3 separate regions of the Homo sapiens genome follow, and regions 2 and 3 are each linked to region 1. Evidence: fine-mapped expression QTL. A gene starts in region 1. Each other region holds a variant in brackets. All regions are shown on one strand. Distances are between the middles of the regions.

Region 1 (10,223 bases):
CTTCACTTTCCTAATAAACTTGCTTTCGCTTTATGGACTTTGTGTGAGATCCAAGAACCCTCTCTTGGGGTCTGGACCCCTTTCCGGTAACGGTACCAGCAGAGGACTGTTCAAGCAGTTGCTCCTGAGTCTCTATTTATTGATTGTATGCAGAAATGAGGATAAGCTATCTTGAGAGGTTCTATTTTAAAAATTATGGCACTGAAAGTACAGTATTTGCATTAGGTATATCAAACACTTGGAATCCTTACAGTTTTCTCTCCTTCTCTATTTTGATCCAATATAAACATAGTCGGGCATGACATAATATCAAATACCTATAGATTACTTAAAGATTACCCTAAACCTGGAGGTTCAGAAAAAATTTCACTGTAATTGAATTGTTCACATATTTAAGTAAAAACAAAAAGTTATTTTACTTAAAAAGAGAGAGAGAGAGAATGGCCAGGCTCAGTGGCTTAGACCTATAATTCCAGCACTTTGGGAGGCTGAGGAGGGAGGATCACTTGAGCTCAAGAGTTCGAGACCAGCCTGGGCAAAGTGAGACCCCTGCCCCCCGACCTCCATATAAAAATTAAAAGTGGCAGGCGCGGTGGCTCACGCCTGTAATCCCAGCACTTTGGGAGGCCAAGGCGGGCGGATCACGAGATCGGGAGGGAGATCGAGACCATCCTGGCTAACAGGGTGAAACCCCATCTCTACTAAAAATACAAAAAATTAGCTGGGCATGGTGGTGGGCACCTGTAGTCCCAGCAACTTGGGAGGCTGAGGCAGGAGAATGCTGTGAACCCGGGAGGCGGAGCTTGCAGTGAGCCGAGATTGAGCCACTGCACTCCAGCCTGGGTGACAGAGCAAGACTCCATCTCAAAAATAAATAAATAAATAAATAAAAATTAAAAGTTAGCCCAGTGTGGTGGCACACATCTGTGGTCCCAGGTACTTGGGAGGATGAGATGGGAGGATCCCTTGAGCCCAGGAGGTTTAGACTATAGTGAGCCATGATCATGCCACTGCACTCCAGCCCGGGTGACAAAGTGAGACCCTGTCTCAAAATAATAACAATAAAACAAAACAAAGAAGGCTTTAAAGTCTTGCAGACCTGGGTTGGAATCCTGGTTATATTACTTGTTCATTCTGACTTTATACAAATTAATCTCTCTAAGCTTTAATTTCAGTGAGATGGGAAGCATAACGTCACCTACCTCATAGGGTTGCTGTGAGTATTGAGTGGGTATTGAGTGAGCTATTGCTTGTATAGCCCTTGGCCCTGTGACTAGTACGTAGTAAATAAATAAATAAATAAATAGGTGGGCCAGAGCCCCAGACCAGAAAACTGATTATTACAGTCCACAGTGGTAATTGCTGTGGTGGGAGATACTGGATCCCGTAGGAGTCCAGAGTAAGTACATCAAGGAAGGGTTCTTGGAGGAATTGACATCTAAGTTGGCCTGCTGAAAGGACGTGGGAGAGCATTACAGACGGAGGGGAGAACAGTGAAGGGGCTCAATCACAGTGGGGACAGAGAGGCAAGAGATCAGCCTGTGAATGGCAGGAGCAGCAAGACCATGCAGGGCTAGACATCCATGAAAACAAGTTTGGCTTTTATTCAGAGAGCAATGCGGGGGGCACTGAAGAGTTCTAAGTAGAGGAGCAACAGAACAGATATGCAAGATTAGGGGCAGGGAGACCAGCGAGGAAGTGAGAGGTGGCAGTGGTCTGGACTGGGGTTGGCCTGCAGATGGAGAAGGTGGTCTCACTGGTGAGACTAGTGACAAGACTTGTTTGAGGGGAGGTTGGTAGAAGAAGGGAGGAGAGGATGACTCCGAGGGGGTGCATGGTAATGCCTTCCATCAAGACAGGGACAGAAAACAATCTGGTGCAAGGAGTGGGCGTACGAGATGGTGAGTTCAGTTTTGGACCTGTAGAGTTTAAGGTGTCTGTCTGTGAGCCAGTGAAATGAAACTGTCTCATAGGTGGCTGGATACATAGATCTTGAACTAGAGAAGAGTCCAGGCTGGAAATACAGCCTTGGAAGATGTGATTGGCTCAGTAATGGCTCCCAAAGATATCCAGGTCCTAATCCATGGAACCTGTAAATGGCACTTATATAGCAAAAGAGATTTTGCAGGTGTGATTAAATTAAGGATTTTGAGATGGGGAGATTATCCTGGATTATCTGGATAGGCCCTAAATGTAATCACAAATGTCCTTATAAGAGGGAGGCTGAGCACTTTGAGAGGTCCAGGTGGGTGGACCACTTGAGGTCAGGAGTTGGAGACCAGTCTGGCCAACATGATGAAACCCTGTCTGTACTAAAAATACAAAAAATAAAAATATAAGTAAATAAAAAATAAAAATAAAAAATTAGCTGGGTGTGGTGGCATGGGCCTGTAATTCTAGCTACTCAGGAGGCTGAGGCACAAAAATCCCTTGAACCTGTGAAGCAGAGGTTGCAGTGAGCTGAGATCACACCACTGCACTCCAGCCTGGGCGACAGAGAGGCATCACGTCTCAAAAAAAAAAAAAAAAAAAAGAGAGAGGTTGAACTAGCTGGGCGTGGTGTCATGCACCTGCAGTCCCAGCTACTTGGGAGGCTGAGGTGGGAGGATCGCAAAAGCCCAGGAGGTTGAGACTTCAGGGAGCTGTGATCACTCCACTGCTTGGAGTGACAGAATGAGACCCTGCCTCAAAAAAAAAAAAAAAAAAAAAAAAAAAGAGGGGGCCGGGCGCCGTGGCTCATGCCTGTAATCCCAGAACTTTCGGAGGCCGACGCGGGTGGATCTCCTAAGGTCAGGAGTTCGAGGACCAACATTGAGAAACCCCATCTCTACTAAACATACAAAATTAGCCGGGCATAGTGGCGCATGCCTGTAATCCCAGCTACTCTGGAGGCTGAGGCAGGAGAATCGCTGGAACCCGGGAGGCGGAGGTTGTGGTGAGCTGAGATCGCACCATTGCACTTCAGCCTGGGCAACAAGAGTGAAACTCCGTCTCAAAAAAAACAAAAAAAAAACAAAAAGAAGAGGGGTGGGGAGGCTGGGAGAAATTTGATCACAGGGAAGAAGGCAAGTAAGATGCTTGAAGATGCTGCTGCCCTTGAAGGTGGAAGGTGCCATAAGCCAAAGAATGCAAAAACTACAGCTCTCGAAGCTGCAAAAGCAAGAAAACAGATGCTCCCTTATAGCATCCAGAGGAAGTACAGCCCCACTGATACCTTGATTTTAGCCCAGTGAAAGTTATTGCAGACTTGTGACCTCCAGACATGTAAAAGAATAAATGTGGCCAGGCGCAGTGGCTCATGCCTGTAATCCCAGCACTCTGGGAGGCCGAGGTGGGCGGATCACCTGAGGTCAGAAGTTCAAGACCAGCCTGGCCAACACGGCGAAACCCCGTCTCTACTAAAAAATACAAAAATTAGCTGGGTGTGGTGGCACGTGCCTGTAATCCCAGCTACTCGGGAGGCTGAGGGAAGTTATTGGTGATTTGTTATAGTAGCAACAGGAAACTAGTACAGAAGACATCAACATTACCGTTGGGATTGGATGAAGAAATCCAGGAAGGCTGATAGAGTGAGACATGCAGAGGATTTAGCAGAGAGCTCCCAACAACTCCAGCATTTAAGATCCCTGCGGAGGAAGTGCATCTCAGAAAGGGCTCTTGGAACAGCCAGAGGGAGAGGGCCACCAAAGAAAATAGTTCTCCTAGGATTCAGGGGCAAGGGTGTTTCAAGGAGAAGGGAGTGGTTAACATTGTCAGATGCTCCTAAAAGTCAAGCAAGAAAAGTGCCTAAGCTCAGGAGTTTGAGGCTGCCTTGAGCTATGATCATTGCACTGCACTTCAGCCTGGGCGACAGAGTGAGACCTTGTCTCTAAAAATAAATAACAAGAAAAGTGCCTATTTGGTTTCAACAGGAGAAGTTGACCTTGAAAGAACTCTTGGAATAGTTGTCGTCTCTATCAGATGGTACACATTTTTTTCAACTTTTAATTCTTTTTTCTTTCTTTTCTTTTTCTTTTTCTTTTTTTTTTTTTTTGAGACAGGGTCTCACTTTGTCACCCAGGCTGGAGTGCAATGGCAGGATCTCAGCTCACTGCAAACTTGACCTCCCAGGTTTAAGCCATTTTCCTGCCTCAGCCCACCAAGTAGCTGGGACTACAGGCAAGAGCCACCACGCCGGGCTAATTTTTGTATATTTTGTAGAGACAAGGTTTCGCCATGTTGCTCAGGTTGGCCTTGAACTCCTGAACAATCCGCTCACCTCGGCTTCCCAAAGTGCTAAGATTACAGGCATGAGCCATCGCTCCCGTCAACTTTTAATTCTATTACACAGTAGTATATGGTCATTGTATAAAAGTTAGGATATACAGATTCACCAAAAGAAAAGAAAGTTACTCATAATGTCTTCAGCTAGTGCATATCTGTCTTCAGCTAGTGCATAAAATGTTGCTGGTGCAACATTTTAGTGCATATCTTTCCGGATTTTTTCTTTTCTTTTCTTTTCTGTGCGAGAAAAGAAAAGATTCTCTCAATCGCCGCCCTGTGGGGTAAAATACCATGAGGCCATTTTAAGAGGGGGAAATGCAGGCTTAGAGAAGCAAGCAATTTATCCAAAGTAACCAAGATTGGAATCTAGGTTCCTCTGACTCCAAAACCAATGTTCCTTGCTGCGGTGCTTTCCTAGCTTTTTACTTGGAGAACTTTTCCCCAGAGGACCTCAGGCTTCAGAACTAAACCTAAGTGGATTTCTATCCTGAACCCCATCCCTCATCCGCCCCAAAGGATGGTGAGCCAGATTAAGGGGTGAAAGGCAGGAGCAGGAAGAGTAAAGGCGTGGGTGCGATCTATGGTCGGGTAAGAGGGAACTAGTACACGCACGTGTTCGGTTCTTCGCAACATCACAATCAAGCGGGCATCAGGCTTCCCATTGTACAGATAAGGAAACTGAGGTTCCAGAAGAGAAGTAATTTTCCCCAAGTCACACAGCTAGCCAGGGGCCCCGATCCACACATCCCCGGGGCGGCGGGGGTTATCAGGAGGGAGTCTCCGGATGCCTGCAAAGCTGAGGCTGAGAGCTGGGCGTACGCAGCAAAGGAGGGGTGGGGCGATTCGGGGCGGAGCGAGGCAAGGAGATTGGGCGGGACTGGGGAGAGAGGAGGGAAGGGTGGCGGGGGGGTGGTAGGGCAGAAGGGGCGAGGTCATGGGGAACTCGGAACGAATCAGCAGAGGAGGGAGGAAGAGGGAGGGGGCTCTAAGACTCGACGCGGAGATGGAACAGCCTGGGCCGTGCAAGGGAGGAGGATTTGGAAGACCCAGAGCGGGATGAAACGGGACAGAGCCCTGAAGGGGCAGGGATGGGGGAAGGCGGAGGAGTTTCTACTGAGGCCAGGGGTGGGGCATCGCGCCAGGGGGCGGGGTCTGAGGCGGTGAGGGGCTGGGGGCGTGGCCTAGGGGGCCGGCGAGGGGCCGGGGAAGCGGCCTGACGCGGTGCGGGGCCGGGACCGGGGCCGGAGCCTGGACCTTGGCGGTGGAGGAAGGCGAGGAGCCGGGGGCGGGGCCGTCCCAGCTGAGGAGCGGAGAGCGGCTGGAGGGTCGGGGGCGGGGCGTGCGGAGGGGCGGGGCGTGTGGAGGCCGGGACGGCGCCCCCGGCCGGCGGTGAGGCCGGCTCAGCGCGGAGCAGCTCAGTGCCCCCCGCGCCCCGCTCCGGCAGCTCCACGCTCGCGCCCGCCATGCCGGAGCAGTTCAGCGTCGCCGAGTTCCTGGCCGTCACCGCGGAGGACCTCAGCTCCCCGGCTGGGGCCGCCGCCTTCGCCGCCAAGATGCCCCGGTACCGAGGGGCGGCGCTGGCGCGGGAGGAGGTGAGGGGGCCGAGGCGGGAGGGGTCGGGGGTCGGCGCCGGGCCTGGCCTTGACCTCCACAGGCGTGTCGCACCCGAGCTGCGATGGCCCTTCACCGCGCCCCGAAACCTGCCCCCTCCCTAGGTCTGGGAGGACCGAGCGCATCTCCAACAGCTGCGTCCTCACCGTCGAGGCGGGGGAAGGCCCGAGGGACCGTTTTGGGGGGCCTCGAGGTCTCTTCGATGACAAACTCCACAGGTCGGGGGACGTACCCCAAGTGCCCCGCGTGACCGCCTCATCACATATGTGTTTGCCTAGCGCCTTCCAGCCTCAGTTTGCGTTTTCATCTTCGGAGCCCCACAAGTGTGCCCCCCGAGTCACTCCCCTTCTGAGAGGCAGGCTTCCCGCCTCAGTCCTGAACTTTCTTCCCCCCGGCTGCAGAGAGGCCCCCTCCCGCTTGCGGCTGGTTCGGAGATTTGGCCCGCGTTTGTGGAATGAATGCGGATGGGAAGGCGCCAGGAGCCGGGGTTCACCTTGGCCGGGCTGTTGGCAAGTTTATCGTCTCCTCTCCCCTCCCCTCTCCTCTTTGTCTTTCCCAGCAAAGCGTCCCAGGCCTTTTCTTTCGGTCTTGCAGGCTGCCCCACCCCATTCCCATGCTCTTCGGAGTTCCTTCCATTCCTCTTCTCTGAACCTGCTGCAGCTTTCCGCAGCTCCTCTGCAAAGAATATTCTAGGACAGACACCCCGTGGCCTTGGTCCAACGGAGAATAATGTGTTTTTGCAGCTCCCCATCCAAAGGATGCCCTCAATTTGGGTGGCATTTTGGACCTCAGCAACGGCTCTAGCCTTCCACCCTTCACCTTAAGTGTACTAGGCACCCACTGCGTGGCAGATACAAAGCTCAGTAGTTCATAACACCCTGCGCCAGTGTCAGGAAATCTGTCCTCTTCTCTCTTGTCAGGGTGACCCTCCATCTCGGAGTCTGTTTGTATCACTTTGTAAGGGTGATAGAGGATTGTGGAAGGAGCATCGACTTTGGGGAAGGCAGACCTTTTTTCTTTCCTTTTTTTTTTTTGAGACGGAGTCTCGCTGTGTCGCCCAGGCTGGAGTGCAGTGACGCGATCTTGGCTCAATGCAAACTCCGCCTCCCAGGTTCACACCATTCTCCTGCCTCAGCCTCCCGAGTAGCTGGGACTACAGGCTCCCGCCACTACGCCTGGCTAATTTTTTTTTTGTATTTTTAGTAGAGACGGGGTTTCACCGTGTTAGCCAGGATGGTCTCGATCTCCTGACCTCATGATCCGCCCGTCTCGGCCTCCCAAAGTGCTGGGATTACAGGCGTGAGCCACCGCGCCGGCCAAGGCAGACCTTTTTTCAAACGCTGGCTCTGCAGTTTGCCATTTGGGTGAACGTGGGCATGTGACCTGTCCTGTCATCTGTGGAATGGGGGTAATAATGTGTACCTCACATGAGACAATGCATATAAAGCATGCATCTTTTTTTTGGAGACAGAGTCTTGCTCTGTCTCCCAGGCTGGAGTACAGTGGTGCGATCTCAGCTGACTGCAATCTCTGCCTCCCGGGTTCAAGCAATTCTCATTCCTCAGCCTCCCAAGCAGCTGGAATTACAGGCATGCTCCACCACACCCGGCTAATATTTGTATTTTTAGTAGAGACAGGGTTTCACCATGTTGGTCAGGCTGTTCTTGAACTCCTGAGCTCAGGCAGTCTATCCGCCTTGGCCTCTCAAAGTACTAGGATTATAGGTGTGAGCCGCTGCACTGGCCCATGCCTCTTGATAAATGGAATGATTATCGTCAGATTAATCGGCAGATCTCTTTAGACAGTGATTGGGTCTCTTTTGTCTTCATTTGTCTCACAGAGCCTCACCTTGTCTCATTTGTCTCACGGAGCCTAGCCTACTACTTTGCACATAGTAGGGGTACATGTTTTATTAAAATAAGAAGCAGCCGGTCAGATTTGGCTTCCTTCCTTGGGCAGAGTCCACTGCCTGTGGATGTGGGTTATATTTTACTGTGGGGCTCACAGGGAAACACTGCTGTCCAGCCCATCCTTTGGAGAGCTTCCTGAGATTTGTCTTCATAGCCTCACATTTCATGACCCAGAATAGCTCAGTGCCATCCACATTCTTAGGGATTTCATGGTTCATCCTCCTCCCCAGGTTGTTCATTAGAATCTTAGAGCAGGAGAAGGGGCTCCAATATGAACCTTATCCATGGACAGAAATGCCCATTTATGCCCATACATCTGGCCTTGCCTGGCTGTGTAAGTGTAAGCACTGTGTGTTGGGGGAGGGACCCTTAGAATGGGTCTGGAGGCCACAGCAGGCTCTGTTCAGGGCTCAGCTTTGCCCCAGTTCAGGCAAGACAAAACCCATCCTCCTTTGCCTTCAGATTTTTGGTTTGGTGCACGTAGAGGTTCATTGTTACAACAGAAAGGCTTGCGGCACCCAAACACAGCTTTTCTCTTCAGCATCTCAGGGCCCAAAAAGTTAGAGTCTGAACTTTGGATTAGACTTCCCTGAGGTTTCCTGTTTGGTTTTGCATTTGCATTTATATTTTGCGATTATATTGTGTTTACATATAGTTTGATGCTGCAATTTTTTCCCCCAGTTCTGGGCTTGACTAACCCACCCCCAGGCTTGTAGCTCTATTTGACTGAATCAAAATGCAACTGATTCTTAAGTCAAGTCTTCCAGTTCTGACTGGTTTCCTGGGAGTAACTAGGGACCCTGTCCTGGGACTCGCAGCCCTTTTGTACAGTCCTGCTGGGAAGGACCCTGGGCAGATCACAGGAAACTAGAATGTCAGGGCTGAGGGACCCTTTTAAGATAGAGACCAGCTAGAAACTCTCTCAGATAAGATGGAGTAACTGATGTCCAGAGAGGCCAAGAGACTTGGCCAAGCTCCTGCGGCTGGATAGTGGGAAAGTTAGCATTTCTACCCACGTGTTCTACCCCCGGTCCTGTTCTCTTTCCTTTTAAAGTCCATCTGTCTGTCCTCCCTACGTAACTTCTCTGAACCTTGTTATTTTATCCTTAAAATGGATCTCTTAATCACTCCCTGCTTACCTTACTGGGTTGTTAAAGTTTTTTGTGTTCAATTATGAAGCACCATGCAAATGTGAGGGAGTATATTAAGATAGTCATTACGTCAACCAGCCTCTTCCTGTCTTGGGCCCCTTTATGCCCATCATCTCATTGATATTCACAACAACAGGTGAAACCGGGCCTAGGGCAGTGGAGGCAGCTGCCCTGTGTCACACAGTGGGTCTCTCTGACTCTGCTGTGCTCTGCCTGGGCTCTGTCCAGCTCTCTGTGCCATCTCTATGGACATAAAGGACACTAAGGACATAAAGATGCTACTTTGATTTGCTGACTGACTAGGGAGAAGTAGCCTGTTACAGGGAGATCAGTAAGAACCCCAGGAGTTTGTCCTGAGTCCCCAGAGAAAGGTACAGTCAATGCCATAAGAGGCAAGTGGAGCAGGAGAGGGAGAGAGCAGTAAGGACTGGTGCAATGAGGGAGAAGTTCCTGGAGGAGGTGACACTTCCAGGTGGAAGGATAGATGAACCCCATTTATCGGAGAGGACAAGGGAGTGAATTCAGAGACTGGTGGGAAGAGAGCATATTGGGAACCAAGTAAGCCATTTTGACCAGAGCTAAGAATTCATACTATATTGTGTGCCTCAAACTGCTAGTGGACACACCCCCTCCAGTAGGTCTCAGATGAAGCAGTCTGCCACAAATAGGAGATCTTCAAAGGCTTGTTTTGTATATATTTTTGAAATTTTAAAAGAAAGTTTTAATTGGACAAGTGGCATAATTTATTATTATTTTATTTTTTGAGACAGGGTCTCACTCTGTCACCCAGGCTAGAGTACAGTGGCACAATCATGGCTCACCACAGCCTCAACCTCCTGGGCTCAGGTGATTTTCCCACCTCAGCCTCCTGAGTAGCTAGGATTACTGGCGCCGGCTTAATTTTTGTATTTTTTGTAGGGTTGGGGTTTCACTATGTTGCCCGGCTGGTCTTGAACTCCTGGGCTCAAGTGATCTGCCCACCTCAGCCTCCAAAAATGTTAGGATTACAGGCGTGAGCCACTATGCTCGGCCAGGGCATAATTTGTAATAAGTAATTTAAAACATAACAGAAAAGGCCTATGAACAACTATCTCAATCCCTGTATTCTCCCCAGAGGTAATTGCTATGGAAATGTACATGCTTCCCAATGTATCTCCTCATGGAAAATATATTATCAGTGGGGGAATGGGAGTGGCTGGGGGAATGTTTACCTAAATTGGTATCAGGTCTTATAATGCACAGTTTAAATTGTTTTGGAGTTACATTTTTCTTTTCCTTTGTGACTTTT
Region 2 (10,223 bases), 23 kb after region 1:
AGCTGGCTCTGAGAAACCATGGGAATGAAGAATGGGTCCTATTGATGAATCCTGACCCAGAAGGGGGCATGCAGAAGGCCCTTCTAGGCAGGGCAGCTGGGCATGGCCTAGTGCTGCCATCTGTGGTCTTTTGCCTGCAGAGAACACAAACCAGAGAGCCAGAGCATGGTGTGTGTGTATGTTGGGATCAGGGTAGGGGACACAAAGGGCAGTGCCAGCAGCTGGAATTTAGGCCTTGTTTAGGGCCAGCCAGGGTAGGCTGCCCAAAGGACTCCAGTGGGCTTTCCAAGCTCAGACGTGTCTCTTACACTAAGATGTGTTTCAGCCACCTTTGCCCAGTGCCTGCCAGGCTCTTGCATGGATCCATTGACTCTTAGCTTTGAATGAAATCTAAATAGCTGTCCATTCTAATCCAAAATCCAGTGTCTGAATCACTCTCTAGCACCTAAAGTATTTGAATACTTCAAGTGACAGGGAGCTCACTGCCTTCAGGGGTGGCCTGTTCTTCCTTAGAAATGTCCCCTGTTTGAGCTGAAGTCTGTTTCTGCCTCCCTAACTTCCACCTCTCAGTCCTGGGAATCCTCTCTGAGGCCAGCCTGAACAAATCCGTTTTCTTTTCAGTAGGACATCCTTTACAGTGTTTGTATTCGGGGCCTCACCATTGCTGTCAACCTTGTTTTCCTTGGACAGATCTCCCTCTGTGCCCTGCCTTCTCCCTTTCCTAAGCCTGAGGGGATGGTGAGGGAATATGGTAGAGGTGGTAGAATTGGGATTTAGGTTTGGAGGCAGATCCAGTCCCAAGATCAAATAAGCTGTGCCCCCTAACTTTGTGGGGCAGCTTAGAGATGGGGAAAGAACATTGGCCCTGGATTTGGCTAGTCCTGGATTTAAATTGTAACTCTGGGCCAGGTGCAGTGGCTCATGTCTGTAATCCCAGCACTTTGGGAGGCCGAGGTGGGCAGATCATCTGAGGTCGGGAGTTCGAGACCAGCCTGGTCAAGATGGCGAAACCCTGTCTCTACTAAAAATACAAAAATTAGCTGGGCATGGTGGCACACGCCTGTAAACCCAGCTACTCAGGAGGCTGAGGCAGGAGGATCGCTTGAACCCAGGAGGCAGAGGTGGCAGTGAGCTGAGATTGTGTGTCTGCACTCTAGCCTGGGCGAGAGTGAGAGTCTATCCCCCCCCCAAAAAAAAAGAAAGAAAAAAAAGAAAAAAAGTTACAGCTCTGCCACTGTTCATCACTGTGTGACTTGGACATGTTCCTCCTCCTGACAGCTTCATCTTTAAAATGGGAATGGCAATGCCTTCCTCAAAGAGTGGCCAGGATAGTGACAAGTAATGAGGCTGCACAGAGCAGGCACTTGGGACATGCTGCTTGCACTCTCCCTGCCCGGCGGCAGAGGTCTGCTGTGGTCCCTCTCCACCTGTGCTTCCCCACAGCTTGCTGACGAGGATCAACATGGAGTTGGGGGTGTGGGGAGATATGTTTAATTAATTCAATGAAAGTTGAGAAATTCCTAAACCAAATTCAATTTAATTTTGAAGTAGATAACATTTTTAGTTATCAAATAGTGGACAGTATTCTAAGCACTTTACCTATAGAATTTACTTAATCTCCCCAGTAACCTTATGTGGTACGCAATATTATCATCTTCATTTTATGAATGGGGAAATTGAGGGACTGAGAGATCACATCAGGTACCTGGTGGAGCTGGAATTCAAATCCAGGTAGTTTGGGGACAGCCCCATACTTTTAGCAATGATGATGTACTGCATCTCTGAAGAGAATTAGAACAGTAATTCCCAAACTTTAGCATGCATTAGAATCACCTGGAGGGCTTGTTAAACCACAGATTGCTGGACCTCACCCCCAGATTTTCTGATTCAGCTGGAGAATTTGCTTTTCTAACAAGTTCCTGGATGATGCCTGCTGCTGGTTGAGGGCCCCCACCTTGAGAATCTCTGACTATCAGGGATTAAATGGGCCCACCTGAACCCAGAAGCTGATTTTTTTTTTTTTTTTTTTTTTTTTTTTTTTTTTTAAGACAGTGTCTCATTCTGTCACTCAGGCTGGAGTGCAGTGGCATGATTATAGCTTACTGCAACCTCGAACTCCTGGGCTCAAGGGCTCCTCTCATCCCAGCCTCCCAAATAGCTGGGACTACAGGTGTGTGTCACAGCACTTGGCTAACTTTTTTAAAAAATTTTTTGTAATGGTCGGGTGCAGTGCCTCATGCCTGTAATCCCAGCACTTTGGGAGGCCAAGACAGGAGGATCAGTTGAGGTCAGGAGTTTGAAACCAGCTTGGCCAACATGGCGAAACCCCATCTCTACTAAAAATACAAAAATTAGCCGGGCATGGTGGCGGGCACCTGTAGTCCCAACTACTTAGGAGCCTGAGGCAGGAGAATCGATTGAACCTGGGAAGTGGAGGTTGCAGTGAGCCGAGATCACACCACTGCACTCCAACCTGGGCAACAGAGAGAGACTGTGTCTCAAAAAAAAAAATTTTTTTTTTTTTTGGTATAGATCGGGGTGGGGGTCTCACTTTGTTGCCGAGGCTGGTCTTGAACTCCTGGGCTCAAGCGATCCTCTCACCTTGGCCTCCCAAAGTGCTGGGATGATAGGAGGGAGCCGCCACACCTGGCTTTTCCTTCATCTATCCAGTTTCATGGGAAACGAGGGCTGATCTCACACAGAGGCAGAAAACAAACCACAGTAAGAACCATACTCATGTTTTCCAAATGCCTCAAGCCTTGCCATGTTTGTGATCTCATTAAGCCTCACAGTAATTCTGTGAGTTAAGCAGAGAATGGATTTTTCTGCCTGTAATCCCAGCACTTTGGGAGGCCGAGGCAGGCGGATCACGAGGTCAGGAGTTTGAGACCAGCCTGGCCAACATGGTGAAACCCCGTCTCTACTAAAGATAAAAATTAGCCAGGCATGGTGGCGGGCACCTGTAATCCTAGCTACTCGGGAGGCTGAGGCAGGAGAATCATTTGAACCTGGGAGACGGAGGTTGCAGTGAGCCGAGATTGTGCCATTGCACTCCAGGCTGGGCAACAGGGCGAGATTCCATCTCAAAAATAAAAAAATAAAAAAATAAAAATCTATTTTAAAGGAGAGGAAGTTTAGAAAACTAGCTGGGCTAGTATCACCCAAGGAGATAATTTTGGAGATGCTGGGGCTAGAATCTTAGTTACTGACTCATCATAGCACTCTGGAAACCTCTGCCTTTCCTCAAAATACCTTCCTTTCCCCAGGCTACTATCAGAATCGTCTCCTTAAAACTAAATTTTTTTATGAGTGTGTGGATGAGTGGATTAAAAAAAAAAACCTGCATTTCTTTAGCTTAAATCTTTGAGCCCTATTATACCACAGGATAGGTGTTATCAACCAGTGTAAATGATTTTCAGATATTTTCTTGAGAAAGGAGTAATTAGAACTTTTCCCTTTTCATGCTCCCTATGGGCACTTGCATGTTCTTAAGTCTGTG[G/C]TTCTCTTGAAGGAAGGGGCCATGTCTTATGTGTCCCCACCATCTGGCACCATGCCTGGCTGAAACAGTCACCAAGAAATGCTTGTTGAAATGAATGAATGAATGGAGGAACTATGTTCCTGTCCTTGTCCATTCTTCCCAGAGCACGCCTCCCTTCCTGGCAGTCCTACCATTTTTTACCAAGCATTCCCTCCCCTCTACCTCATAGTGTAGTCTCTTTAGTCTCTTTTCTGCCTGTCCAGGGGCCAGAGTTAAGCAACACAGCTTAAGGGACGCCTTCCCCATTCCTTCAAAGCAGACATGGCTCTGTTTTCCCTGGACTCCCAGGAACCTTCCATCATAGCCCTCATCACATTGCATGATAAGTGTCTGCTTATAATGGCTTTTTCTTCCCTTCAATGATGATGTCCTTGAGAGCTGAGATTGTGTCTTTTTTGTTTGTTTTTTGAGACGGAGTCTCACACTGCCCTCCTGGCTGGGGTGCAATGGCGTGATCTCAGCTCACTGCAGCCTCCGCCTCCCAGGTTCAAGCGATTCTCCTGCCTCCGCCTCCCTAGTAGCTGGGACTACAGGCACATGCCACCATGCCCGGCTAATTTTTTGTATTTTTAGTAGAGACGTGTTAGCCAGGATGGTCTCGATCTTGACTTCGTGATCTGCCAGCCTCAGCCTCCCAAAGTGCTGGGATTACAGGTGTGAGCCACTGTGCCCGGCTGAGATTGTGTCTTTTTTACACAGGGTGTAGTGGGCACTCAATAACTAATTGAATGAATAAACAGCCATGTGAACTTGGCTGCCAAGAGCAGTAGGGACGGGAATGGTATCTGGCTGGGAAGCTGTTTCCTGATAGATGTCTGACAAGGGCATCGAAAAACAGTTTGTGGCCGGGCGCGGTGGCTCACGCCTGTAATCCCAGCACTTTGGGAGGCCGAGGCAGGCGGATCATGAGGTCAGGAGATCGAGACCATCCTGGCTAACACGGTGAAACCCCGTCTCTACTAAAAAATACAAAAAATTAGCCGGGCGTGGTGGCGGGCGCCTATAGTCCCAGCTACTCGGGAGGCTGAGTCAGGAGAATGGCGTGAACCCGGGAGGCAGAGCTTGCAGTGAGCCGAGATTGTGCCACTGCACTCCAGCCTGGGCTACAAAGCGAGACTCCATCTCAAAAAAAAAAAAAGAAAAGAAAAACAGTCTGTGAGTGATTCGGGTGACTTGTCTCCCTTTACCAGTTAGAGCTAGTTTCAGCCACAAGTGGCAGAATACCCAGTATAACAGTGGCTCAAATAAGAGATTTCTCTTTCATATTAAAGAATTCCACAGATAAGTAGACTGGGGCTGCTAGGGTAGTTTCCTAATCACTAGGGACAAGGCTGATATCTTGTTGCTCCGCCATCCATAACAAATGGCTTCTACTTCATGGTCCAGGATTGCTGCCTGAGCTCTAGACATCGCCAGCACATTGTAGCCAGAAGAAAGGGGTGACAGAGGGTACCCTTGCATTCCCCTTTTTTCTTTTGTTTTTTTTTTTTGTGGGGGGGTGCGTTTGAGACAGGGTCTTGCTCTGTTGCCCAGGCTGGAGTGCAGTGGCACGATCACAGCTCACTATAGCCTCAACTCCCTGGGGTCAAACAGTCCTCCCACCTCAGCCTCCTGAGTAGCTGGAATTATAGGCCCATGCCCCATGCCTGGTTTTTAATTTTTTGTAGAGACAGACTCTCACTATGTTGCCCAGGCTGGCCTCGAACTAGGCTCAAGCAATCCTCCCGCCCCAGCTTCCCAAAGTGTGAGATTACAGCCGTGAGCCACCCCACCCCAGGCCCTTTTTTTCTAAATTAAAAAAAATCGACTTTATTTTTTAGAGCAGTTTTAGGTTCACAGCAAAATTGGGCAGGAAGTACATAGAGTTACCATATACACACAGCCTCCCCCTCTGTCAACAGCTCTTACCAGAGTGGTACATTTGTTTCAATGACCATACATTGACACATCATCACCAAAAGTCCATAGTTTACATTAGGGTTCACTCTTAGTGTTGTACATTCTGTGGGATTGGACAAGTGTATAATTCCATGTATCCACCATTATAGCATCATACAGAAATGTTTCCCTGCCCTAAAAACCCTCTGTGCTTCACCTGTTCCTCCTCACTACCCCCATCCCTGGCCACCACTGATCTTTTTACTGTCTCCATAGTTTTGCCTTTTCCAGAATATCGTATAGTTGAAATCATGTAGTAGCCTTTTCAAATTGGCTTCTTTCACTTAGTGATGTGCATGTAACTTTCCTCTGCATCTTTTCATGGTTTGATAGCTCATTTCTTTTCAGTGATGAATAATATTTCACTCTCTGGATGCATGACAATTTCTTTATCCATTCACCTACTGAAGGACATCTTGGTTGTTTCCAAATTTTGGTAATTATGAATAAAGCTGATGTAAACATCCGTGTGCAGGTATGTATACGTTTTCAACTCATTGAGAAAATATGAAGGAGTATGATTGCTGACTCATTTGGCAAGAGTACGTTTAGTTAAGAAACTGTCAAACTGTCTTCCGAAGTGGCTGTACCATTTTGCATTCCCACCAACAATGGGAGTTTCTGTTGCTCCACATCTTTGTCAGTATTTGTGTTTTGGGGTTATTTATTTATTTATTTGTGTGTGTGTGTGTTTTTGTTTGGTTTTTTTTTTTTTTTTTTTTGAGATGGAGTCTCACTCTGTCACCTGGGCTGGAGTGCAGTGGCACTGTCTCAGCTCACTGCAACCTCCGCCTCCTAGGTTCAAATGATTCTCCTGCCTTAGCCTCCCGAGTAGCTGGGACTACAGCGGTGTGCCACCACGCCTGGCTAATTTTTGTATTTTTAGTAGAGACAGGGTTTCACCATGTTTGCCAGGCTGGTCTTGAACTCCTGGCCTCAAGTGATCCACCAGCCTCAGCCTCCCAAAGTGCTGGGATTATAGGCGTGAACCACCGTGCCCGGCCTCCCTTTGCCAGTATTTGGTGTTGTCAGTGTTTTGGATTTTGGCCATTCTAACAGGTGTGTAGTCCCTCCCTTCCTTTTTATTTTTCAATTTTTTAAAGCCACTTTATTGAGGTAGGATTGACATGTAAAAAGCTATACATAGTCAGTGTATACAACTTGATGAGTTTGGGGGTTATCTCCCTTCTTTGTAAGATACTTTTTGGAAGTTAACAATTAAAATATTATATTCCATGGCCAGGACTTAGTCCCATGACCACAGTTAGCTGCAAGGTAGGAAATGTAGTCTTTATTCTAGGTCGCCAAGTGGCCATCTGAAAAGTCAGGTTTCTTGTGAAGGAAGAAGAGAGAATGGACACTGGGAGCCACCCAGTGATCTCTGCCACACTGCAGGGAAGGGAAATCTTCTCAAACTTGCTTAAAGGAACTTCGTTGGGTGGATTCAGGGGTATTTCATGGAATTTCACCAAAGACATAATGTGTGGAGGTTGCCTCTGAAGAGGTAGCATCTGGAAAGTTGCCAGAAACCAGCACCACTCTTCCTCTTCTGCCTTGCTGTGGCGGTGTGGGGCTTGTTCATGTCTTTCTACACATCTGCTCTGTTCTTTTCTCTCTGCATGTGGCAGGAAGGACATCCCAGCTTTAGCATTTCAGTCAGTCAACTAGCTTTCCAGAGCCCAATTCCAAAGTCCTTGGAGAGAGAATCTGATTGGTCCAGCTTGGGTCAGGTGGGAGAGAGAATCTGATTGGTTTAGCTTGAACCAGGTGTCTGTCGACTCTGGCTAGAACAAACAAGGCTGCAGGGGCCCACCTCCAGAGGAAGGGAGGGCAGTTTTCAGAAAATGGGTGTCATGGGATGGGAAGACTCCTCAGAATGTATCTAGAGCATGAACATACTCCTCTCAGGTCCATGTCCCAGGACTTTGCAAACCATCATTCATTTAGGTAAACATTTATTGGGCACCTTCTGTGTGCTAGGTACATGGATCTGCCCTCTAGGGATTTTGGAAATTTTTTTGGAAATTGTTCATATCTTTTTTTTTTTTTTTTTTTTTTGAGATGGAGTCTCGCTCCCATTGTGCAGGCTGGAGTGCAGTGGTACCATCTCAGCTCACTGCAACCTCCACCTCTCGGGTTCAAGAGATTCTCCTTCCTCAGCCTCCTGAGTAGCTGGGATTACAGGTGTGCACCACCACGCCCAGCTAATTTTTGTATTTTTAGTAGAGACAGTGTTTCGCCATGTTGGTCAGGCTGGTCTTGAACTCCTGACCTCAGGTGATCCACTGCCTTGGCCTCCCAGAGTGCTAGGATTACAGGCGTGAGCCACTGTGCTGGCCCAGTTGTTCATATCTTTAACCTGAATTGTCTTTTAGAGCGAAATCATAGCTCCTTAAATTACTCACCTTTTAGCTTTCCAGGTTTCAAGATGGGGATCAAGGGATTTGGTAAACACATGCTTCTGTTTCCCCATCTGGATTTTGGGGAACCATAGAAGTGGCCATGTTCTTGCCTCTTTTTTTTTTTCTTTTTCTGTTGGCCAGTTTAGAAAGAAACGTTCTCCCCTCCACCTCTTTGTCTCTTTAGTAAGAAACATTTTGGTTGTTTTTTGTTTGTTTGCTTTGCTTTTTGAGACAGGGCTCTCTCTGTCACCCATGCTGGAGTGCAGTGGCGCAATCAGGGCTCACTGCAGTTTTGACCTCCCCAGGCTCAGGTGATCCTCCCACCTCAGCCTCCCAAGTAGCTGGGACTATAGGTGCATGCCACCACATGGAGATGGGGTTTCGCCAAGCTGTCCAGGCTGGTCTTGAACTCCTTGGCTCAAGTGATCCTCCTGCTTTGGCCTCCCCAAGTGCTGGAATTACAGGTGCACCCCACCACACCCAGCTAATTTATTTATTTTTTCTTTTCGGTAGAGACAAGGTCTCACTATATTGCCTAGGCTGGTCTTGAACTCCTGGCCTCAAGTGATCCTCCTGTTTCTGCCTCCCAAAGTGCTGGGATTATAGGCATGAGCCACCATGCCCAGCCTCATGTTTTAACCAACTCAAATATGATGCCGTCTCCTTAATCTTCCTGATTCTTTTGTTTTCTTTCTTCAGCCCTGGGATGGGCCTCCACGGATCTCAAATATGAAAGTGTCTCAAGTTCACACCCGAGGAGGAGAATGTTAGATTTCTAGCCCCTGTAGGAAAAGCACCTGGAACTTGGCAGACCTTCCTAGCATCAGCAGCAGCTGATGATAACGATCACAGGTGCTGTTCATTTTGAACATACTCCATGCCTAGCACCAAGCTAAATCCTGTATTTGCATCCTCTCATACATATAGCCCTCATACCAACCCTGAGAGGTAGGCATCGATTTCCCCATTTTACACATGGCTAATCAGGAAGCTCAGAAAGAATAGGCAACTTGTGCCCGGGCACGGTGGCTCATGCCTGTAATCGCAGCACCTTGGGAGGCCGAAGCGGGTGGATCACTTGAGGTCAGGAGTTTGAGACCAACCTGGCCAACACAATGAAACCCCGTCTCTACTAAAAATACAAAAAATTAGCCAGGTGGTGGGCACCTGTAATCCCAGCTAGTCAGAAGGCTGAGGCAGGAGAATTGCTTGAACCTGGCAGGCAGAGGTTGCAGTGAGCCAAGATTGTGCAACTGCACTCCAGCCTGAGCAACAAGAGCAAAACTTGGTCTCAAAAAAAATAGGCAACTTGTTCAAGGTCACATAGCCCCCGAGTAGTGGAGCTGAGCTTCGTAACTAGACCCCCCTTCCTCCAGAGGCTTCCCACATGCCACCGGCCTCTGAGAACACTCCACATTGCCTCTGAGTTCTGCCCTATGCATGTTCTCCTGTGGGTATCATTTTGAATCTTTGGCAGTACCATTTCCAATGTGTTTACTAACTCTTGTCATGTAACTCTGGAAATCAGACTCTGATCCCATTTTATTTTTGTCACTGGGAAGAACAGCTGGGCTGGGGTCAGGGTGGGGCTGTGGTACATGGATGGAACACTGTTCTGTTGCACCCGGGAAGTCCAGCTCTGTGGCTTCCCCACCATGTGTCTCTCGGTAAGGGCCTCCCATCTCTTGGCTTCAGTTTTCTCATCTGTGGGCCCCTTCCAGCTCGACATTCTGTGTTTTCCAAGTTAACTGTGCATTTCGCAAGGATTTCATGAGGTTGTCAACTTCCATGCCCCACTGAAAGGGGGAGTGTTTCCCATCTAGGCTGAGCCTGCTTGGGGCATGTGAGACTTGCTTCTTGCCATCACATCTCTGGCCTTTCCCACATTCTGATGTTTGTTCTGCAGCCTCTGGGCTTTGGGGTTATCTGGTGTTGTCTCTCCAGTTCTCCCCAGTGGTGATGGAGTGTGCTCCCGCCACCCTCTGCCATCTCCCCAGACTCAGGTAACTGAATGCCTCCAACCCCTCTCTGCTCACCCATAGCATCCTGGCCTCTTCCTCCTTGTCCTGACATAACTGTTTATTGAGCCTGGGGTTTGGTGAACAAGTGTACCCTGCTTTGTATCTTAAGGGAAGATAGAGATGTGTGTGTTCTCCCCTCTGGCCTTTTGCTCAGCATTTTGTACATATTTACAAATCATTCATCTTCTCAGCAACTCCACAAGTCCCCTAGTATCATCCCCATTTTGTAGACAAGGCACTCAAGGCTCAGAGAAGTTAACAGATTTGTCTAACGGACACACCAGCTACTGCCAGAGGCAAGATTCAAACCCAGGCCTGGCACAC
Region 3 (10,223 bases), 47 kb after region 1:
AATCTATAAAATTAATACAAATAAAAAAGATTGAAGGCACCTGTGTTCTTAAATCCTTTCCAGGAAAATCAGAACTGTTTGCCCCAAATCTCACTTGGCCCTTGTTTGAGTCCTTCATCCCCCTGAATAAACACCTTCAAATCCTTCCCATTACTCTTGGGATAAAGACCAAGAATATATTAACATGGTGTGAATTAGACCCTGCATGGTCTGGCACCTCCTTACCTTAGCTGGCACCAGCCCTCTCCATCTTGGCACTCGCTCCTGCCTTGGGGCCATCACATGGTCCATCCCTCTTGCCCAGCAGTAGCTTCCTCCAAGCTTCTCAGGCTTCAGATCCCAGCTCAGACATCACTTCCCAACTAGCCCCAACGAGGTTGGATCCCCATTTTCTCTCCCATAGTTCTCTGCGTGGCTGTGATTTGATTCATGTCTTTCTCCCCCACCACTCTGTGGATTCCCTAAACTGTCTTGTTCATTGTACCCAGCCCCACCACACAGCTGGCACAGGAGGGCCTCCTGCACCATGTGGCCCCTTTGCTCATGCATCCTTGGCAGAAGAGGATATAGGGGCTGGTGAGACTTGTTCAGGCTTCTCTTTCCTTGGGGTCTAGGGCCAAGCTGGAGAAGGAGCGCGATCGGGCCAGGGTGACAGGAGGGATCCCTGGGGAGGTGGCCCAGGACATGCAGAGAGAGCGGCGCATCTTCCAGCTGCACATGTGTGAGGTAAGGGGTGCTCTGGATGAGGGAGGGGGGGCGTGGGATGTGTCTTCCTGTCTGCCTCTCCAGGGGACCAGTCACAGCCTCAGCTCAGGTCCTGGCCACATGGCCCTGTGGGATGTCACCAAGGCCCAGTCGCAGCCAGGAGGATTAGCCTGGGATGGGGACTGCAGCCCCTCGTTCCCAGGATTCTGCTTCAGCTCACATCACGTATCTTGCCCTGCCCTCCTCCTAGTATCTGCTCAAAGCCGGGGAGAGCCAGATGAAGCAAGGTCCTGACTTCCTTCAGAGCCTCATCAAGTTCTTCCACGCCCAGCACAAGTAGGTATCTTCCCGCGTCCCTGCCACTAACCCTTCCAGTGTCACAGAACAAGGCCCCTCTCAAGGTGTGATAGACCTGAGAGTCTCTTTGGAGGCCTGCATCTTTTTGGCAGAACTTTCATAGTTCCTCATTGAGTGCTCACCGGGTGTCAGGCATGAGTACTTTACAAACATCAATTCGCTCAATTCCCCAACACTTCTGGGAGCAGGTACTCTATTATCCCCATTTTATAGATGAGAAAACTGAGGCTTATTTTCCAAGATTACATAGCTAGTAAGTGGGATTTGAACCTAGTCAAGAGAGACTCTTGTCTATGGAGTGTCTGTTCTTGACCGTCAGACTACAATTCCCTGAGGTGCCCTGTGATCCTTACGGCAGCTTCTCCCACACTTCTGGCTTCATCTCTCATTTCCATCTTTATCTGGACCCTTGTTTGGCCTCTGACACCTCTTAGCTTTTTCCAAGATGGCTGGAAGGCTGCCCAGAGCCTGTTCCCCTTCATCGAGAAGCTGGCGGCCTCAGTACATGCAGTAAGTTGGGTCTCACCCTTGGGCACGTGATCAAGCCCCCTGTCCTTCCAGGAAAATCTGTGGGTGTGGAAGAGCTGGCTTCTGCCCACAGAGTGAGGCTACTGCTCTGCTCTTCTGGGTCTGGGCTCTGTGCCTGACATATTTGTTGGCTGGTGATGGGATCCCATCCTCTGTCCCATAGCTCCATCAGGCCCAGGAGGACGAGCTACAGAAGCTGACCCAGCTCCGGGACTCCCTCCGAGGGACACTGCAGCTTGAGAGCAGAGAGGTCAGCCCCTGAACTATCCCAAAAGGAATGCCCTCCCCCAAGGCCCACCGTGGAGGGAGGGAGAGAAGGAAGACCCACAGGGTCCCCTGGAGAAGTCTCCCTGAGTGAGCCCCCGCAGAATGGGGCTCTTCCCACTGAGATGCCCTGAGGTCTCCTTTGCATGTCCGAGGGACAGGAACACCTGAGCCGGAAGAACTCAGGATGTGGCTATAGCATCCACCAGCACCAAGGCAACAAGCAGTTTGGGACGGAGAAAGTGGGCTTTCTATACAAGAAAAGTGACGGGTAAGTGATTCAGAGCTTACATAATTTGCCCAATGTCACACTGCAAGTAAATGACAGGGTTGGGGAAGCTGCCCAAAGGAACTGTTCTAATCATTTGTGTAGACACCGAGGGTTGCAATGTAAAATCCTCAATTCCTGGGTTGTCCAGGACACCTGGGCATGTGAACTTCTGCTAAAGGTGACTGGTTATTTTAAGTTAAAGAAGAAGAATAGCAGTAGCTAACACTTTTTTTTTTTTTTTTTTTTGAGATAGAGTCTCACTCTGTCGCCCAGGCTGGAGTGCAGTGCCATGATCTCGGCTCACTGTAAGCTCCGCCTTCCGGGTCATGTCATTCTCCTGCCTCAGCCTCCCGAGTAGCTGGGACTACAGGCACTCGCCACCACACTCGGCTAATTTTTTTGTATTTTTAGTAGAGACGGGGTTTCACTATGTTAGCCAGGATGGTCTCGATCTCCTGACCTTGTGATCCGCCCGCCTCAGCCTCCCAAAGTGCTGGGATTACAGGCATGAGCCACCGCGCCCGGCTGGCAGTAGCTAACACTTATTGCAACACTTACTATGCCCTCATTCTTTTTTTTTTTTTTTTTTTTTTTTTTTTTTGAGATGGAGTCTCCCTCCGTCACCCAGGCTGGAGTGCAGTGACGTGATCTCAGCTCACTGCAACCTCCGCCTCCTGGGTTCAAGCGATTCTCCTGCCTCAGCCTCCCGAGTAGCTGGGACTACAGGTGCCCGCCACTACGCCCAGCTAATTTTTTGTATTTTTAGTAGAGACGGGGTTTCACCGTGTTAGCCAGGATGGTCTCAATCTTCTGACCTTGTGATCTGCCAGCCTCAGCCTCCCAAAGTGCTGGGATTACAGGCGTGAGCCACTGCGCCCAGCCTATGCCCTAATTAATCTCTGCAATATACTGAATATGCCTAGAAATGAAAGTATTGGCTGTGCCTTGCTTCCTAGTGTAAAAAAAAAAAAAAAAATCAGTCTGTGGGCCAGGTGCAGTGGCTCACACCTGTAATCCCAGCACTTTGGGAGGCCAAGGCAGGCAGATCACTTGAGGCCAGGAGTTCAAGACCAGCCCAGCCAACATAGTGAAACCCCATCTCTACTAAAAATACAAAAAATTAGCTGGGTATGGTGGCGTGAGCCTGTAGTCCCAGCTGCTTGGGAGGCTGAGGCATGAGAATTGCTTGAACCTGGGAGGCAGGGATTGCAATGAGCCGAGATCGTGCCACTGTATTCCAGCCTGGGTGACAGAGAAAGATCCTGTCTCAAAACAAAACAAAACAAAAAAACAAAACTGCTGTGAAATGCAAAGGCCCTTGTGGGATATATTCATGTTTCTACCTACCAATCAGTTTAATCGGAGAAGAATAACTTTGAAGAAGAAACCAATGAATATTTACCTGTTACAGGAGAAGTGTTACGGAGTTTTGGATCATGGACTTGCTAATTTTATTTTGGGGATATTAATATTGATCTTGCTTAGTTGAACCACAATTTATTTGTTGTTGTCAAGAGCCTGTGCCTCTCAGACTAGGAGCTCCCTAATGATATAAGCTATGTCTCCCCCATCAGACTGGGAGCTCTCAGAGGGCCAAAGTCACATCATCCCCTTAGAATAAGGATTCCCAGGGAGTGAGGCTGTGTTTCTCCATCAGACTGGCATCTTCCTAAGAGCAGAACTGTGTCTCCTCCATCAGAAGGGAGCCCCAGAGAGTCAGGGGTCAGGGGTGGGGGTGTAGGGTTAGGAGAAGAAAGAGGTAAAGGGATGTGGCTAGAGATCATACAGGTGGGGGCAAATTTCTGTTCTCTGACACCTGCGAACTAGGTGTGAGCCTTGGGTCACTGTCCTTCTATCCCTCTGGGCTTTAGAATTCGAAGAGTCTGGCAGAAAAGGAAGTGTGGAGTCAAGTATGGCTGCCTGACCATCTCACACAGCACGGTGAGGCCTAGAGGTGGTGGGAGTCTCAGGGCACGATGGACCCTCTTCTTCTGGTGTTCTGAGCAAATAATGTCAAGCCCTCCCTCTAAGACTGGCCCCCAAACCTAGGTCCAGGGAGCTGGAGACCCGTTTGGGAGGACAGATGGGACCTGAAGGCCCCAATCTAGTCTTAGTCTACACTTCACATCCTTGAGGTGCTGCTGGGTGAGGAGAAACACAAATGGAACAGGATGATTATGCCCATTTAACAGAGTGGGAAATGGAGGCCTAAAGAATGTGGAGGGCCAGAGGTAATGCATACATCCTCCGCCCCTAAATTCCCACAGATAAACCGGCCCCCGGTGAAGCTGACCCTGCTGACGTGCCAAGTGAGGCCAAACCCTGAGGAGAAAAAGTGCTTCGACCTGGTGACCCGTGAGTGGTCCCTGTGCCTCTCCCCCACCCACAGCTGCTCAGGGCTTCTCTAAGACACCTGTCAGCTCCCGGGGGGCTTCAGTGAGGGGTCTGTGTCCAGTTCCACACATGGTGTCGAATTGCTGCTACTGCAGACATAAGAATCCTTAGGTCTAGGATACCCACATCACATTAAATGTCAAAATGCACCCACTTTACATAATAAATGTGGCTATTTATACAGAGCATATTTGAGTGGATTTGGGTCATCTGGGTTTTGAAATTATTTCTTTTTTT[A/T]AAATTTTACCTTTTTTTCCCAAATACCCAGACTTGAAGGAGATGAAATTATTGTTTCTTTACATTTTCTACTTTTCGTTCTTCAGAGCCTTTGGTGCAGGCTTTGTGTGAGAGCAGACACAGGCTGAGAAAGACCTAGATCTTGTCCTCAGGAAACTCTCTGGCAGGGGTGTGGGGTGGGTACCCAGGACTGTAAGATGAGGGGGCTGTCCAGAAGATGGGTGCAGATATAGCCCCATAGAAGATTAGGGAGCAGGAAGGCCTGCACTGCTGTGGGGAATCAGGAAAGGCTCCTGGAGGAGACAGTATTTGAGTTTAGCCTTGAAGGACATGTAGAATGAAGAGTTTGTGGGGTGGGGGCTTTTGAGGAGACAGGATTAGCATGATGAAAGGCATGGAAGCAGGAGAGTGGGTCTGGCCGGTTTGGCCAGAGTGGAGGGTTCATGTAGCAGAGTGAGAGATGAGGCCTGGAAATCCCTCTTAAAAGTTTGGACCTTATTTCCTGGCAATAGAGAGCCATGGGAGATCTTGGGGCAGGGCAGTGGTGTAATTAGAGCAGAGCCTTGGGCACAACAGTTGGGAGCTGGTACAGGCTAGGGGAAAGGGGAAATGGGAAGCAGGGAGACCAGACAGGAGGCCTGGTCGCCCAGGAGGAGACCAGGAAGGGCCCAGTGGGGTGGTGACAGTTGGTTCAGAGGATGCCCTGCCTCAGAGCTGGGTTCTCTGGGGTTCCAAGCCCTTTGAGACCTCGTCTGAGCCTGGAACCAGGGCTTCACGCAGAGGGAGCTTTGTTGGGATCCTACTTCGGAGGCCAGTTCTGAGAAACTGCCCCTGGTGCTGGCCACTGTCATTCCACTCCCTTCCCACTCCTAGCTTGAGAGTCCGACTTGTCAGGGACACATCTCCATGTGGCCCCAGCGGCTTTGGTGGGGGCTCCCTGGGCTCCGGGAAGGCCAGCAGCATTTCTGTGGGTCAGAAGCCCCCTTCTCTCCCGACAGACAACCGGACGTACCACTTTCAGGCAGAGGACGAGCACGAGTGTGAGGCGTGAGTGCCCCCTCGGCCAGCCCGGCCAGCCTTGTGGGTGGGGGCCGGCGGCCCTATCTCTTCCCACTTGACATCCCCATCCCACCCCGTTCAATCTCCGCAGGTGGGTGTCAGTGTTGCAGAACAGCAAGGACGAAGCCCTGAGCAGCGCCTTCCTCGGGGAGCCCAGCGCTGGCCCGGGGTCCTGGGGGTCCGCCGGCCATGATGGGGAGCCGCACGACCTCACAAAGCTGCTCATCGCGGAGGTGAAGAGCAGGCCTGGGAATAGCCAGTGCTGCGACTGCGGGGCTGCAGGTCGGTCCCCGGGGCCGGGGCAGGAGGGAGGCTTAAGTGGAGGGGAGGGGCTGCACCTCCAGGCTCCAGCTGCTTTCCTCTGCAGACCCCACGTGGCTCAGCACCAACCTGGGCGTGCTCACCTGCATCCAGTGCTCGGGCGTCCACCGCGAACTGGGCGTGCGCTTTTCGCGCATGCAGTCACTCACCTTGGACCTGCTGGGCCCCTCCGAGTTGTTGGTGAGGGCGGGGCGGGGCCTGGAAGGGGCCAGAAGCGGAGTTAGGGGTGTAGTTTCATCCGGGGGCGGGGCTTGCAGGTTGTGGGTGGGACCTGGCCGAGGTGGGCTGGGACAAGCCAGGTAGCGGGTGGTCAGGGGCGGGGCCTGAACCGGGAGGGCGGCCGAGGGGCGGGACTCTGGGGGCTTGGAGCTCCACCCTATGCAGGCTTAACCGCCCGGTCTTACTCCGCCCCACGTCTATTTTCCTACGACTCCAGCTGGCCTTGAACATGGGAAACACGAGCTTCAATGAGGTCATGGAGGCCCAGCTACCCTCACACGGCGGCCCTAAACCCTCAGCTGAGAGTGACATGTAAGGGGATTCTCAGAGAGAGGGGCACCCTGCCTAGGGGATTCTGCCTCCGCAGTGTCCAGGGTCGTAGAAAAGTCTTGGATCAGAAGTCTGGGGAGGCTGGGCGCAGTGGCTCACGCCTGTAATCCCAGCACTTTGGGAGGCCAAGGCGGGCGGATCACTTGAGGTCAGGAATTTGAGACCAGCCCGGCTAAGATGGCAAAACCCCGCCTGTACTCAAAATACAAGAATTAGCTGGGCGTGGTGGCACACGCCTGTAATTCCAGCTACTCAGGAGGTTGAGGCACTAGAATTGCTTGAACCCTGGAAGCAGAGGTTGTAGTGAAACGAGATTGCGCCACTGCACTCCCTCCTGGGCAATAGAGTGAGACTGTCTAAAAAAAAAGCCTGGGGAGAGGGGAGCCTCAGATCTAGACGTCTTCAGGACATGGTTCTGGAGAAAAAGAGAGCTGTATCTCCTGTGGGAGGGCCCCAGGGATCAGCTGGGCAGACACGGTCCATGCTCTGAGATCCTGTGGTTGTTTTTGGTAGGGGCACCCGCAGGGACTACATTATGGCCAAGTATGTGGAGCATAGGTTTGCACGCCGGTGCACACCTGAGCCTCAGCGACTCTGGACAGCCATTTGCAACAGGGACCTCCTGTCGGTACTGGAGGCCTTTGCCAATGGGCAGGACTTTGGACAGCCGCTGCCAGGGCCTGATGCACAGGTGAGAACCCCTCCAAGGGCCACTTATAACCCACCTGTCTAACATATTCCCCAGTTCTTCTCCAGGACCAGCTGTTACTCCCCTCCACCCCACCTCTGACATCTGCTCAGATCTCACCCATCAGAGTGGTAAGTGGGAAAGAGCACAGCTTCAGTCAGGCAGACCTGGGTGGGAATCCTGGCTCTGTTTTTTCCTAGCTGTGTGATCTAGGGCAGGTTACTTCTCTGAGTCTCATTTCCTCATCTATAAAAGGGGTTAATAATAGCACCCACGGTGATGAAGTGAGAAGTCATGTATATAAAGGGCTTAGTGTACAATGGGCATGCAATAAACGTTAATATCTTTTTCTTTCACCTAAATAGCCCTGAAATATAAGGGCATGTCAGTTTAGAGCCAGGAAGGCCACATTGCTTTGGCTATTCCAAGAACAAACACATGAGCATGGAGAAAGGATATCAGAGACATTTGAAAAAGTAAATCAACAGGAGTTGCTGACTGATTCGACATCAAAAATTGGATGTTGGCTGGGTGTGGTGGCTCACGCCTGTAATCCCAACACTTTGGGAGGCCAAAGTGAAAGGATCACTTGAGCCCAGGAGTTCAGAATCAGCTTGGGCAAAATAAGGAAACCCCCATCTCTACAACAACAACTAAAATTAGCTGGGTATGGTGGCACACACCTGTGGTCCCAGCTACTCAGAAGGCTGAGGTGGGAGGGTGGCTTGAGCCCAGGAGGTTGAGGCTACAGAGAGCTGTGATTGCGCCACTGCTCTCCAGCTTGGGTGACAAAGCGAGACCCTGTCTCAGAAAAACTAAAAACGGGTATCTTTGAACTGTCTGTCTGATATCTTGGTGGGCTATCCAATGGGCAGTGCAGCACTTAGGTGAGGTAAGAATTTGGAACAGCCTGCACATGTGTGATAGTTGAAAATGTGAGGTTGCTGAGGTCTTGGTGGGGAAGTGCGATCAGGGAGAGGAGCCGAGAGCTGAGAAAGAAGTTTGGGAAACACTTGTTGGGGGCAGAGGAGGAAGAGCCGTGAATGGGAACAATGGGAGAATGGCCCTTCACCTTCCTCCCAGACATGAGGCTCTGCCCTTGCAGTCTCATCTCTCCAGGGTTCTGGCAGCTTCCTATGGGGGGATAAGGGGTTAGCAAGAGTTCAAGAGGGAAATACTGGGTTGGAGGCAGGTGCACTGGGGGGGGAATCTCAGAGGTGTGGATGTGTTTTCAGGCACCTGAAGAACTCGTCTTGCATTTGGCTGTCAAAGTCGCCAACCAGGCTTCCCTGCCTCTGGTGGATTTCATCATCCAGAACGGGTGAGAGCCTCCCTGCCTGTCTGTCTGGCTCCTCACACTCCCTCTCCTTTCCTTCCTCTTCTCCCATTCTCTTCCCTCCTTTCCCCTCCCACTTTTTCCCCTGACTTTGATCCCCTCATTGATCTGTTCCCCTTCCTTTCTCCCTGAACCCTCCTCTCCCCAGTGGTCACCTGGATGCCAAGGCTGCTGACGGGAACACGGCTCTGCACTACGCAGCACTCTACAACCAGCCCGACTGCCTCAAGCTGCTGCTGAAGGGGAGAGCTTTGGTTGGCACAGGTGGGGCTTGAATACCTCCTCCGTCAGACTCCTATTCCTGACTACCCCTTATGTGGACTTCCGATGGTCTCGGGCTCTAATCCTGGCTTGCTTCTGACCACCTCTGTGATCTTAGGGGTTTGTCATTCAGCTCTTGAATTTCAGCTTCCTCATCTGTAAAATGGGAATAATACCACTGACCTAGCAGGACTGCTAAAGAAAAAAGAAAATAATATTTCTGGGAGTACTTAGGCAAATAAATATTAGCTAGATCTGAATGATAATGATTGTAATAGCTAATATGTATTGTTTAACATATGCCTGGCAATGGGACAAGTGCTTTTTGTATGTTAATTAATTGAATCCTCACAACCACTTCATCAGGTAGTTCCAAGTATTATACTCATTTCATAAACAATTTTGTCCCAAAAGGTTATATAACTTGCCTATGGTCACATAGCCAGAAAATGGCAGAGCCAGGATTCAAACCCATACATTCTGATTCCAGAGGCCCGTCTTAATCTCTAAGCTGTAATGTTTCTTTGACTATGACCATGAACCCTGACTTTCCCCGCTCACAGTAAATGAAGCAGGCGAGACAGCTCTGGACATAGCCAGGAAGAAGCACCACAAGGAGTGTGAGGAGCTGGTGAGGACTCGGGGAGGCAAGGGGCCCCTGACTCTTTCTCTCTCCCTGCTGAGCCCCCAACCCTCTGAACCACCAAGCCTTTGTTTTTGGCAGCTGGAGCAGGCCCAGGCGGGGACCTTTGCCTTCCCTCTACATGTGGACTACTCCTGGGTAATTTCCACAGAGCCTGGCTCTGACAGTGAGGAGGATGAGGAAGAGAAGGTGGGTCCCAGCCCTGTCCCTCAGGCCTCTGGATGGCAGAAGGAAAGAGCCAGATTGGGCCTGGTGTGTGTTGGCGGGGGCGGTGAGGCGGGGGGACAGGGCTACACCGGAGGAACCAGGCTGTCCTCATCCTCAATCTTTTGCTCTGGCAGCGCTGCTTGCTGAAGCTCCCGGCCCAGGCTCACTGGGCCAGTGGGAGGCTGGACATCAGCAACAAGACCTATGAGACTGTCGCCAGCCTGGGAGCAGCCACCCCTCAGGGCGAGAGTGAGGACTGTCCCCCGCCCTTGCCAGTCAAAAACTCTTCTCGGACTTTGGTCCAAGGGTGTGCAAGACATGCCAGTGGAGGTACAGTTGGATGCCCAGATAAATGCTCACCATGCCATTCACAGAGGACCTGTATATGCTGGGGCACTGAGCT

The links. PIP is the estimated chance that this variant, and not a neighbour inherited with it, causes the effect. A credible set is the group of variants that fine-mapping cannot tell apart.
Region 2: its variant is the best candidate, but not a certain one, in a credible set for the expression of ASAP3 in whole blood (INTERVAL, PIP 0.86).
Region 3: its variant is the best candidate, but not a certain one, in a credible set for the expression of ASAP3 in whole blood (TOPMed, PIP 0.90).

Annotation. Positions count from the first base shown.
Region 1 is chr1:23,479,637-23,489,859 of GRCh38, reverse strand. It overlaps ASAP3 (ArfGAP with SH3 domain, ankyrin repeat and PH domain 3), which reads left to right and starts at 5,681. Exons shown (of 25, transcript NM_017707.4): 1 at 5,681-5,855. The coding sequence starts at 5,727. RefSeq lists an enhancer at 4,817-4,916 and silencers at 5,107-5,156, 5,167-5,276, 5,397-5,846.
Region 2 is chr1:23,456,482-23,466,704 of GRCh38, reverse strand. The region is part of intron 1 of ASAP3 (ArfGAP with SH3 domain, ankyrin repeat and PH domain 3); the gene reads left to right. Among named protein-coding and RNA genes, the nearest start is that of ASAP3, 23 kb to the left of the region's middle. The variant G/C (reference allele first, on the strand shown) is at 3,500.
Region 3 is chr1:23,433,004-23,443,226 of GRCh38, reverse strand. It overlaps ASAP3 (ArfGAP with SH3 domain, ankyrin repeat and PH domain 3), which reads left to right. Exons shown (of 25, transcript NM_017707.4): 6 at 615-726; 7 at 956-1,041; 8 at 1,497-1,572; 9 at 1,754-1,840; 10 at 2,016-2,125; 11 at 3,997-4,066; 12 at 4,393-4,480; 13 at 5,755-5,803; 14 at 5,907-6,097; 15 at 6,183-6,316; 16 at 6,573-6,667; 17 at 7,199-7,376; 18 at 8,609-8,694; 19 at 8,858-8,973; 3 more. Among named protein-coding and RNA genes, the nearest start is that of TCEA3, 13 kb to the right of the region's middle. The variant A/T (reference allele first, on the strand shown) is at 4,757.